Homo sapiens: one gene and its partner. The protein of the gene in region 2 interacts with the protein of the main gene of each other region in a pairwise test. Each region holds a gene or a part of one and is shown on either strand. Other genes may lie near its edges.

The links. Proteins that work in one complex are often made in the same cells at the same time.
Region 1: the proteins of TRIM23 (region 2) and NXT2 interact in binary tests that used the Homo sapiens proteins (3 or more experiments, as listed by UniProt).

What each region holds. Positions count from the first base shown.
Region 1 is NC_000023.11:109,539,808-109,545,201, forward strand, and holds the end of NXT2 (NTF2-related export protein 2), read left to right. Parts: intron 1-1,667; coding exon 1,668-1,812; intron 1,813-2,699; coding exon 2,700-2,881; 3' UTR 2,882-4,891; downstream 4,892-5,394. UniProt on the Homo sapiens protein: Regulator of protein export for NES-containing proteins. Also plays a role in mRNA nuclear export.
Region 2 is NC_000005.10:65,593,310-65,600,348, forward strand, and holds part of TRIM23 (E3 ubiquitin-protein ligase TRIM23), read right to left. Parts: intron 3,872-7,039; coding exon 3,742-3,871; intron 3,223-3,741; coding exon 3,112-3,222; intron 1,337-3,111; coding exon 1,212-1,336; intron 1-1,211.

The sequences.
Region 1 (5,394 bases), on a different chromosome or scaffold from region 2:
TGATGATAGTTTCTTTTGCTGTGCAGAAGCTGTTTAGTTTAATTAGATCCCATTTGTCAATTTTGGTTTTTATTGCCATTGCTTTTGGTGTTTTAGTCATGAACTCTTTGCCCATGCCTGTGTCCTGAATGATATTGCCTAGGTTTATGGTTTTGGGTGTTACGTTTAAGTGTTTAATCCATCTTGAGTTAATTTTTGTATAAAGTGTAAGGAAGGGGTCCAGTTTCAGTTTTCTGCATATGACTAGCCAGTTTTCCCAGCACCATTTATTAAATAGGGAATCCTTTCCCCATTGCTTGTTTTTGTCAGGTGAAAACCAATTTTTTAAGGCAAAAGATAAAAGAAGTTTCTTGTACTGATATTTGATGTCAGGGAAAAGGGTTGTGACAATGGATGTTTATTGTGCCTTGCCTTGAATGTGTATTGTACCTTACTGCTTTCAAAAAATAAAGTAGAAAAAAAAAGACAACATTGTTTATTACCAGTGTCAATATATGTGTTGACCTTTTTTTTTATTTTTATTTATTTATTTTTTTTTGAGATGGTGTCTCACTCTGTCACCCAGGTTGGAGTGCAGTGGCGCGATCTTGGCTAACTGCAACCTCTGCCTCCCGGGTTCAAGCGATTCTCCTGCCTCAGCCTCCCAAGTAGCTGGGATTACAGGCAACTGCCACCACGCCCGGCTAATTTTTGTAGTTTTAGTAGAGATGGGGTTTCACCATCTTGACCAGGCTGGTCTTGAACTCCTTACCTCATGATCCACCCGCCTCAGCCTCCCAAAGTGCTGGTATTATAGGCGTGAGCCACCATGCCTGCCTGGCCTTTTAACCCAAGTTACATTATAGAATTAAGCTAATAGTGTGTCTTGTGACCCCAGAGTTTTAACTGTGGAATTTCTGCCTCATTTGGGCCTTAACTTATTTGACTTATCGAAGTCTCTGCTTTAGCAAGTACTCATGATTCTTTTGAACTAAGTACACTAATAGAGTAGTACTATAGCCGAGCATGGTATGACATGCCTGTAACCCCAGCTACTTGGGAGGCTGAGGCAAGAGGATTTCTTGACCCCAAGAGTTTGAGACCAGCCTGAGGCAACAGAGCAGGACCCTGTCTCAATTTTTTTAAAAAACAGAATAATTTTTAAGAAAACATAAACCTCTTCTCTAAAAAGTGGGAGTAGTGAACTAATTCTTTCTAACACATGCAAATATTAAATGTTTCATATATATATATAGCCACTAGCATTAAAGGGTACAGGTAGGGCTTGATCAAAAACTTTGTTAATTCTCATAATTACAAAAGGAAGACACACTAAAACTGGCTTGGGGCTGCATTTGCTTGGAATTTGTGATCATTTAATTCATTTGAATACAGAAAGCAGAACTTAATTGGGTGGAAGGTTTTATTGTGTCTAAAGTGAAATATGAAAAAATATATTTTACTGCCTAGTTTATAAAGAGTAAGGTGATATTTATTTAAGGCCAAGATTATAAGACAGACGTTTTGTTCACATGGGTTTCCAGTGGAGATGGAGCAAGGGGAGTGGAGATGAAGGTAGAACTACAAAAAATGTTTATATACCATCTGTAATATTTTAATCCATTTCTATAAAATGTTTATCTAGAAACAGAATTATTTCCCTTTTTTAAATTTGTCTTTCTTTTTAGGCACTAACCAGGCTGTATCTGGACAAGGCCACCTTAATATGGAATGGAAATGCTGTTTCAGGGCTGGATGCCCTAAATAATTTTTTTGACACATTGCCTTCTAGTGAGTTCCAGGTCAATATGTTAGATTGCCAACCAGTTCATGGTAAGATCATGATCTTTCAAGATGCTTCCTTTGTTTTCCTCTAGTAAGCACTGAGCTTTTACACCAAAAGCAGCGAGAAACTTTTAGTGGTAGAACTATTTACTTACTTGAGCAAGTTAAATATTATGAAAAATGTAACTGTCCAGTCAAACTTTGGTCTTCCTTCAGATTCTTTCCACTAGTAGCTTTTGATGGATTATGTGATTTTGGCTTATTAAAAGTTGTATGAAAAGTTGAGATTAATGTGATTTTTGTAAATGGCAGGGAAAGATTATCTGATTTCTCTAAATAGTTGCCTGCTGGACCCTGAAATGTCTCCAGAGTAAAATTATACCATATCTCTGATTAATGTGTTCAGTATCTTACAATCTACTAATATTTCACAGAAATTTACTCTGTTATGTGAAAGGATGACTTTTTACAAGAAAATTTGATTCCAGGTAGATTGATACAGTTTAATAAAACCTCTAGGTGGGGTCCTAAGTGTCTTAAATTGTAGTTCAGGGTGATTTTTTTCCTTTATAATTCCTGAAAAGAACAATAGTTTAAGAAGCAAAGCATGAATAAGCTCTGTTAGAAACCTGAAATATTAATTCTGAAATATTTATATATATATGAAGCAAATGGTCCTATGCTAGATATAAGCTCCTCATTTTGAAACTAGAGTATCCCAAAGTTTTCTGGACTGAAAATAATTTTAATATCTTTTACTAAGTACTTAGTTTTCTGGGTTTGAGTATGCATGCTTAAGATTATGCTCAAGGGACAGAAAGTGTATGAAAAAAATTTTAAGCATTAGTCCATAAACAATGTATTTTAAGCCTGAAAATCTGCTTATTTAGAGATAGAAAATGATGTGTTCTCTTTTTTTTTTAATGTGGATGAAGAGCAAGCAACTCAGTCCCAAACTACAGTTCTTGTTGTGACCAGTGGAACTGTGAAGTTTGATGGAAACAAACAACATTTCTTCAACCAGAACTTCCTGCTGACTGCTCAGTCCACTCCCAACAATACTGTGTGGAAGATTGCAAGTGATTGCTTCCGTTTTCAAGATTGGTCTAGTAGTTAAAGGGGCAAAAGTCCATTCTCATTTGGTCCATTAGTTCCAGCAATTGAAATTTATGTGAATTATTTTGATTGTAGAAGCACTATAATATGTGCTGAAACTAAATTTCTTTAATATTTTCTATTCCTGTCAGCACCTTTTCTAGCAGCTGCCAGTTTGGAGCATTGCCCTCTAAGAGCTTTAAAACTATTTTTTTACATGCCTTATATACATTCCACTAATGACATTCTTATAATAATATTAAACACATGATCTTGGTACTAACATACTCACTGTGAACCCAGCCTATTGCAAAAATAAAATCTTTTTATAATATTATCTATGGGATGTCAGCACAATATAACACTCTGGGAAGAAGTGGAGTTTTTTGGTTATTAGGTTAATTTTCTAGTAAAACACGTTGCCTGTTTTCAGTTAACACTGGTAATGCCATTTTAATATATGGCTTTTTCAAATCAGTTCAGTGAAAATAGTACAGATTTAGGTTTACATAACTACTCTGACATACTGGAATTGCATATAGAGATGTTCAGTGGTCGTTTTTCATTTTAAGTAATTTTTGTTTTGGCATTTTTTTGTGTGAAGTAAATTAATCAACTAGAGAGGTGCAAAACGTTCTCAGTTGATATCTGAGTATTGGGTGCATTTGGTGGCTTAAAAGCAAAGCTTCCTAAAAAGATTTTTCTTGGCAGCTCCAGGTCTATACATTTAGGTAATGAATGGTAGTAGAACTAATAGCTTTAACAGGAGAATAGGGAATGAGAAATAGAAATCCAAGGCTGAAGCCAAAAGTAAGGAGGGTGGCCAAATGGTAAACTATTGGTACTTGTTTTCTACCTCCTAAAAATGTAGCTTATTTTTAGGATTTAAATCACTAAGTAAATAAGTATCCTTGCCAAGTGATCATGAGTGTCATTTTTGTTCTAAGACTAATATTTTTAGATCTTTTTACTTCACCTCATACTTATCACCAATGTATATCTCCATTTATTCAATAACTTACTGGGGTAAAATAACAGCAATAAACCTAACCTTTTAACAGGGTCTAACATGAGAGTTGGAGTCAAAGCCATTGTTATCTTTTGGTGACACCCTTAAATTTTAAGTCTTCCAGTCTTCCATGTGAACTTTAGGCCCAAAGTTTCTTATGTATCACACATCCCCCAAATAAGTGATTTTTTCCCAGTGCTTTGTACTGTCAACTGCATTATCTTTAATTATTTAAAGGTAGAATTATTTAATTTTGTGATTTGTTCTTCCATATGACATTGAGCAAATAGATCTGTTTCAAAATATGTTCCCGCTATGTGGATAACTCTTCTTTTTAAAAAGAAAATAGAGAATAGCAAATCTTCATGATAATCCTCAAAAGAACAAAATGCTTAACTTTATCTCTTAATTTCTAAAGGTAAATAACCTAGGTTCAGCTTTTGCTTAAACATTAAATATCTTTTCCATTTTTTAATGTTTGTAAGCTAGATATGCCAGCTTTGTTTCTACATTGCAACCAAAAACTGTTTCTTTTCACTTAATTATAAAACCAGTAATTCATTTACTCTTGCCCAAAACTATACACTGTATTTCTGTTATAGTAACAAAATAGAGTTATGTAGAATTGTATGGAACTCAAATTTAAACCATGCTTTCTTGTAGTACTGATTGAAACTTACACGTTTTATTCTACTCATAGTGAGCTTATTCTTATTTTGGATTGATTTTCCAAAACCACAGCTTCAGCAGCAACAATCAGAATGTCCAAATGCTGTCCTTTCCCTTACAGAGAAGAACAATGGTAACTAAAAGCTGCATATAACTAGCAATAACTACATTGAACGGTGTGCATTGTTCATGATTGTTGTGTTTTAAGACTTGTATATAAACTGCTTTTTCCAAACTCTGTATAACTTTTAAATGGCTGGAACTACTCGTATAAGGACTAGACTGTATTTTTGACATGCTCCTATTTTTGTAACTTGAAAAAATAAAATTTTGCCTTGTGACAGATTTTCTCAAGATTGTTTTAAGGTCTTTTGATTTTTGTTCTTAGGTTTCAGAATGGTTACTTGTTTCTTTACAATATAAGGTTTTTTAAATTTAGAAAAAAATTACAGTAGTGTGTTGACAACAATGGTTAACAACTTGGATCTTCTTTTGGTTCTTTCTGTAACCTGCCACATCTGTCTCCTTTTCCTGCCAATTATTCACATTCCTGAGATCATCACTTGTTTGAGATACCTGTAGGTTTTTGGTGAGAAGTTGGAAATCTTAACCTTGAGAAACCAGCTAAAATGCTATATTCGATAGGCAGTGAAACCAAAATACAGTTGATTTCCAGAAAGAATGGTTCATTAAATTTAATTCTACATTAAAAATATGTCAACACTACTGGGTAAATAACGAAATGAAGGCAGAAATAAAGATGTTCTTTGAAACCAATGAGAACAAAGACACAACATACCAGAATCTCTGGGACACATTTGAAGCAGTGTGTAGAGGGAAATTTATAGCACTAAATG
Region 2 (7,039 bases):
CTGTAATCCCAGCTACTTGGGAGGCTGAGGCAGAAGAATCGCTTGAACCTAGGAGGGGGAGGTTGCAGTGAGCAGAGGTTGTGCCACTGCACTCCAGCCTGGTGACAGAGCAAGACTCAGTCTCAAAATAATAATAGTAACAGTTGTATATAAGTCTGAGGATTATAAAACACTTTCATCTTTAACTATCTGATGAGCAGAAAATGGTATTTCACTGACTTATTTGCATGTCTTAAATATACCAGTTCTTAATAGTTTGCCTTTTTTATTAAGGGGAAAATTCTTTATTCTTCATCCTACTCTTCCCCTCCCATGACATCTCCTCTGCTCCACTTCTACTCTCCTTCTGCCTCTACTTAAAAGCATCTCATCCTCCTAGAAAGGCTCAAGGTCTAGGAATCTTCAGCTACTCCCAGTCCTTCATCCTCCCCATTCAGTCACCAGTTCTGCCTCAAAGTCTTTTCCATCTGCCTCCGCCTTTCTATTCCTCTAATTCAGGCTCTTGTTAATGCTCACTTGAATTATTTAAGCAATTTACTGCATCTCCCTGTCTCCAGTCCTTTGCCCTGATTCATTCTACCCCTAGAATTATAGTATTGAAACACTGATATGATCTTATTACCCACTAATCCAACATTTTGATGACTCCTCCTTGCTCATAGAATAAAACCTAAATTTCTCAGTCTAGCACTGTCAGACCTTTACAGCATGGCCTTGTCTGTTATTCTAAATTCTCTTCATCCTCTACTGAGACCTGACATATAGATCTGCTTGATGTTCCCTAAACTAAAAACATTCATGCTATTATCTTCTCTGTCTATAATGTTCTTCCTTTCACATACTGACTCAGCCTCATGCATAATTTCAACTCAAATTCTACATTTTACAATCTTACAACATGCCACATTTAGAACTACTTTCCTAATTCCCGTAACACTGTGTTACTTAAGTTACTTATCAGTCTTCTTCGTATTCAGATCTCTTATGTGTTCATATGCATACACAGGAGTTTCTGGTGAGCATTAACTACCTTATTTCTATTTTGTATACTCCCAGGTACCCAGCACAGCATTTTCACATAGATTGTACTCAAAATACACAGAAGAAACTATAAATATCTATTGAACTGATTGTCTTCTGAAATATTTCCAGTTGCCTTTTGACATGCACAAAACTACTAAAATAAATATTCCAATATAAAAATGCATTACCTGTTTGTTAGCAAAAATCAGGAGCAGAGCATCTCGGAGTTCTTTTTCCGTTAACAACTTTGCAAGTTCGCTGTGTGCTTCACTAATTCTGTCTCTATGACTGCTATCTACAACAAACACAACAGCTACCCAAAAAAAAATAAAAAAAACAAAAATAGTCACTTGCTAAAGTTCAGTAAATGAACCAAATATTTAATGATATCATTATTATGTTATGGTTAGAGTTTGTCTACCATCATTATTTTCACACAGAGGGTGCCTAGTATGGCAGGGGCACCTACAAATAATTAACAGTATGATTTCAAGTAGTTTACATAACTTCTCAGGTTTAGTTTCCCCATCTAGGAAAGGATTTACAACACTTGCTCTATCAAATGCAAATTGGTCTGTATATCAAATAACTTTTTACATAACGAATTTCAAAATATGCCTCATGATCCTCTACCTATGGATGCTACTTGTTCTTCGAATACTACTTTTCTAATATTTAGTCTTTGAATAAAAGACTAAAAGATAAAAACCATCACCATTTTTATTTCTCCAAAGTATTATGTCTAAGTTAACTATCTCCAGACTTTCAACCATTCCTCATATTCAAAATTTCATTTTTGTAGGGCACAGTGGCTCACACCTATAATCCCAGCACTTTGGGAGGCTGAGGTGAGAGGATCACTTGAGCCCAGGAGTTCGAGACCCCTGGGCAATATAGTGAGACCTTATCTCTATTAAAAAAAAATTAAAAATTAGCTGAATGTGGCCGGGCGCGGTGGCTCGTGCCTCTAATCCCAGCACTTTGGGAGGCCAAGACGGGCGGATCACGAGGTCAGGAGATGGAGACCATCCTGGCTAACATGGTGAAACCCCGTCTCTACTAAAAATACAAAAAAATTAGCCAGGCATGGTGGTGGGCACCTGTAGTCCCAGCTACTCAGGAGGCTGAGGCAGGAGAATGGCGTGAACCTGGGAGGCGGAGCTTGCAGTGAGCCGAGATCGCACCACTGCACTCCATCCTGGGCGACAGAGCAAGACTCGATCTCAAAAAAAAAAAAAAAAAAAAATTAGCTGAATGTGGTGGCATATACCTAGTCCTAACTACTTGGGAAGTTAAGGTGGGAAGATTGCTTGAGCCCAGGAGACAGAGGTGACCATGAAATGCAATCATGCCACTGTACTCCTGCCTGGGCAACAAAGCAAGATTCTGTCTCAAAAAAAAAATACATTTTTTCTATTAATTATGGCTCATAATAATATCAAAAATCCCAAAGTAAAAATAATTATTCAGTCTCTCATCTTGGTGGAAAGCAGAATAACATACAGAATAAGCGGCATGAGCGTAAGCATTATGTTGGGGTCTATGAGGCAGAAGTGTAGAGTAAGACCCAAATGTGACTAAAACCTATGTAGAGTATAGATATGATATAATACGGTTTGGTCAAAAGCAAGCTACTGTAAGTTCTTCTGCAGGTAATAACTATTTGTGAAAGAAATGTGGGAGTGGGGCTATAGTGAGATTATAATGGGATAAATGTTGAGTTTAACTGAATTCAGCAGAATCATACAACATAAATTCAACTCTATACCACTACGCTACCAGCAGTCACACCCATATAATACTGGTAATATACACTCTCTGTTAAGAGAAGCAAGAGTACTCTTAACTGACTACATATCTAAGCTACGTATGGTTTTTATTCTGTAATAATGGTATATCAGGAATAAACTAAAAGTATATATCCTAATCTTTCTACTTTCATTTTTTACAAGTTAAGAAACTGGCCACAGGTACTTAAGTATACAGTCAACGACTTAATCATAAGTATCAGCTTTGCTAGTTAAATCAGTACACTGAAAACTGTCATCCTAAAAATGTGAAAAATTAAATGTCATTTTTAACTCTCACCTTGAGTATTGAGGTAATAATGTTTCCACAATGGTCTTAATTTGTGTTTTCCACCTACATCCCAAATAGTGAATTTTAGATTTTTATATTCTACAGTTTCCACGTTAAAACCTGTTTTAAAAAAAAAGTTACTTTTATACTATATTTGTATTTACAATGAATGACATATCAAACACAGACAACCCCCAGTTTATAACTGTGACTTATCAAATTATCTACATGCAGCAATATCTACTGAAGCCTAATCAACCCCATTCCTACTCCTACGTGGTGAATGTATACCTGTAACAGCTCCTAGCCCTCTAAACCTCCACCAAGGTCCTTAGGACCTTGGGATCCATGTACCTTCCAGCTCTGTTCCACAACTACCCCCCACCCCACACCCTCAGCCAGGATCACCAATCCTCTATTCCTTCCAACTGTCCCACCAATACTCTGTTTCTTCTTTTTATCCCCATCCACATTTCAATCCCATAGTCATACAATCTTGCATTTTTTCTCTGAGATGCTGATATCTTAGAGCCAGAAAAGAGCCCACCACCATGACAGATCAGTATCAAATAAGACCCCAAGAACTTGGCTGTAAGCTAGGGTTTGTCTATTAAGGTAAAAACCAATATTCATACTTACCAATTGTTGGAATGGGCTGCATGAATTCATCCTGTTTTAACTTAAACAAGATAGTAGTTTTTCCAGCACCATCCAATCCTAACGTAACGACCCGAATTTCCATTTTTGGTCCAATGTGAACTCGATTATCCTACAATTTAAATATTTTTAAATATGTTTGACATGCAGTTAGAAAGTAATAGCATTTAGCACCTTTATTATTTCTACATCTCCTATTCATTCCTCAACCATTGCAATCTGAATTGTATTCCTCAAAATACTGAGTCTGATCTCAAGAAGATGAAATCCTTCCCCATGGCTAAATCTTGCCTTAGTAAAACTGACCACTTTGTCTTTGTATAACAGAATATACATACCCACTTAATTTTCTCAGATTTTCTAACTCAAATGAATCCTCTAAATCTTAAACATGTTTTTATGCTATACTAAAAAAATCACAATAAGGGTAAATCAATTAAAATGAAAAAGTGCTGCTCAATTCCCAGAAATTTCTACTATGAATCTGATGTATATCCCTCCAGACACTTTCCATGCACATACTGGCCAACATACACAAACAAAACAAATTTTTTTTTAAAAAAGTATTACCCACACATTGAAACTAATGTGTTTCACTCAACAGTATATTATGGAATCCTGTCAATACATATTGACCAACCTTTTTCTTTTAATGGCTTCTTTACATTTCATAAACCACAATTTAACTAAACCCCCAACTGATAGATTTTAGGTAATTTCTGATTTTATGATATTACAAATAATGCTATAATGAACATTTTTATATATTACTAGCTGCATGATTTCTCTGCTTCACTTCTTTCATCTCATAAAAGGAGGATTAAAATAGTACAAAATTTACATAGGATTCTTGAAAGGATTAATTTTTAAGAATACATATAAAAGTCCTTACAACAGTTCCCAAAATATATGTGTTATTTTTGCTTACTCCTTTGAGCACTCTTTGCTTGGATTTTATGATACAAACTTTTCCTGGTTTGGTTTTATCCCATTTTTGGATGTTCCTTCTAATTTTTCTTTAATCCAGCTCTTAAATGTTGGTATTCTTGAGGGTCTATATGAGGCCTCCTTCTCATTCTACATATTTTCATTCTCTTCATGAGCTTTAATTACCATGTATATTATGGCTCCAAATCTATACTTAAGTCCAGTTATACACCTCAGAAATAAAACAATATATGGAACAGAACTACTTCTGTGAGAACTCTAGAGAACAGTTAAGAAACTACAGCACCCAGGCCATAAAACCAAGAAGGCATTCCAGTGAAAGGGGTAATAAAATTTGGGGCATTCTGTGCACTCATCCCTGCCCTTCCCCATATCCAACATAGTGAGGATGAGGTGCAACCAGGAGGAAACTACAAAATACTAGCAAACTGAATTCAACAACACATTAGGCCGGGCGTGGTGGCTCATGCCTGTAATCCCAGCACTTCGGGAGGCCGAGGTTGGGGGTGGATCACCTGAGGTTAGGAGTTCGAGACCAGCCTGACCAACATAGAGAAACCCCGTCTCTACTAAAAATACAAAATTACCCAGGCATGGTGGCGCACGCCTGTAATCTCAGCTACAAGGAGGCTGAGGCAGAAGAATCGCTTGAACCCGGAAGGTGGAGAATGCAGTGAGCCGAGATCGCGCCATTGCACTCCAGCCTGGGCAACAAGAGCGAAACTCCGCCTCAAAAAAAAAAAAAACACATATTAAAGGGATTGTACGCCATGACCAAATGGGCTTTATAACTGGAAGGCAAGAATTATTCATCATCAATCAGCATAATACACAGAATGAGAGAAAAAAAGCACGTAATCATCTCAATAGTTGCAGAAAAAGCATTTAACAAAATTCAATACCCTTTCATAATAAAAACATTCAACAAACTAGGAGTAGCAGGAAACTGCCTCAGTTAACATACACCATATAAGAAATGCCCACAGCTAACATCATACTCAAAAAACTGAAAGCTTTTTCTCTAAGATAAAGAACAAGAAGATGCCCACAGAGCAATTAGGCAAGAAGAATAATAAAAGACATCCAAATTGTAAAGGAAGATGTAAAATTATATCTCTTCACAGATGACATGATCTTGTATGTAGAAAACCCTGAAGAGTCCACACAAAAAGACCTATTAGAATAAAGTCAACAAAGTTTCAGGATATAAAATCAACATGAAAATCAGTTGCATTTCTATACATTAATGATAAAAATCCCAAAAGGAAATTAAGGAAACAATTCTACTTAAAATAGCATCAAAATTATACTTTCAGGGATCATTTTTATAGTTTATGACTAAAGAAGTTTCTCTGAACATGTACAGAAAAAAAAGTTTAAGATACTTAGGAATAAACTCAACCAAGATGGTGAAAGACTTAAGATACTATGTTGGTGCAAAAGCAACTGCGGCTTTTGCCAGTACTTTTAATGGCAAAAACCACTATTACTTTTGCACCAACCTAATATGTAGGCGTACACCTAACCAAGATGGTGAAAGACTTGTACACTAAAAACTACAAATATTGCTAAAATAAATTAAGACATAAATAGACATTCCATGTCCATGGATTGAAAGACATAAAATATTAAGATATGAATAACAGCCCAGGTAATTTATATAGATTCAATGCAATCCCTATCAAAATCCCAATCATGTTTTTTGTGGAGATAGAAAAAATTAAGCTAAAATTTATAAGGAAGCTCAAGTGACCCTGAATAGCCAAAACAATTTTGAAAAAGAAAAAAGTTGGAGGACTCACACTTCCTTACTTCAAAATATATTACAAAGCTAATGTATTGTTCTGTTTTTGCACTGCTATAAAGAAATACCTGAGACTGGGTAATTTATAAAGAAAAGTTTAATTGGCTCACAGTTCCACAGGCAGTACAGGAAGCATGATGCTGGCATCAGCTTGGCTTCAGGGAAAGCCTCAGGAAACTTACAATCATGGTGGAAAGCAAAGAGGGAGTGAGGCATTTCACATGGCAGGAGCAGGAGCAAGAGAGAGGGTGGGGGAGGTGCCACACACTTTTAAACGACCAGATCTCATGAGAACTCACCTATTATGGCAAAGACAGTACCAAGGGGGATGATACTAAACCATTCATGAGAAACTGCCCCCATGATCCAGTCACCTCCAACCAGGCCCCATTTCAACATTGGGGATTACAACTGGAAATGAGATTTGGGCAGGAACATAGATCCAAGCCATATCAGCTACAATAATGAAAACTATGTGGTACTGGCATAAAGATGAGACATACAAACCAACAGAACAGAAGAGAGAGC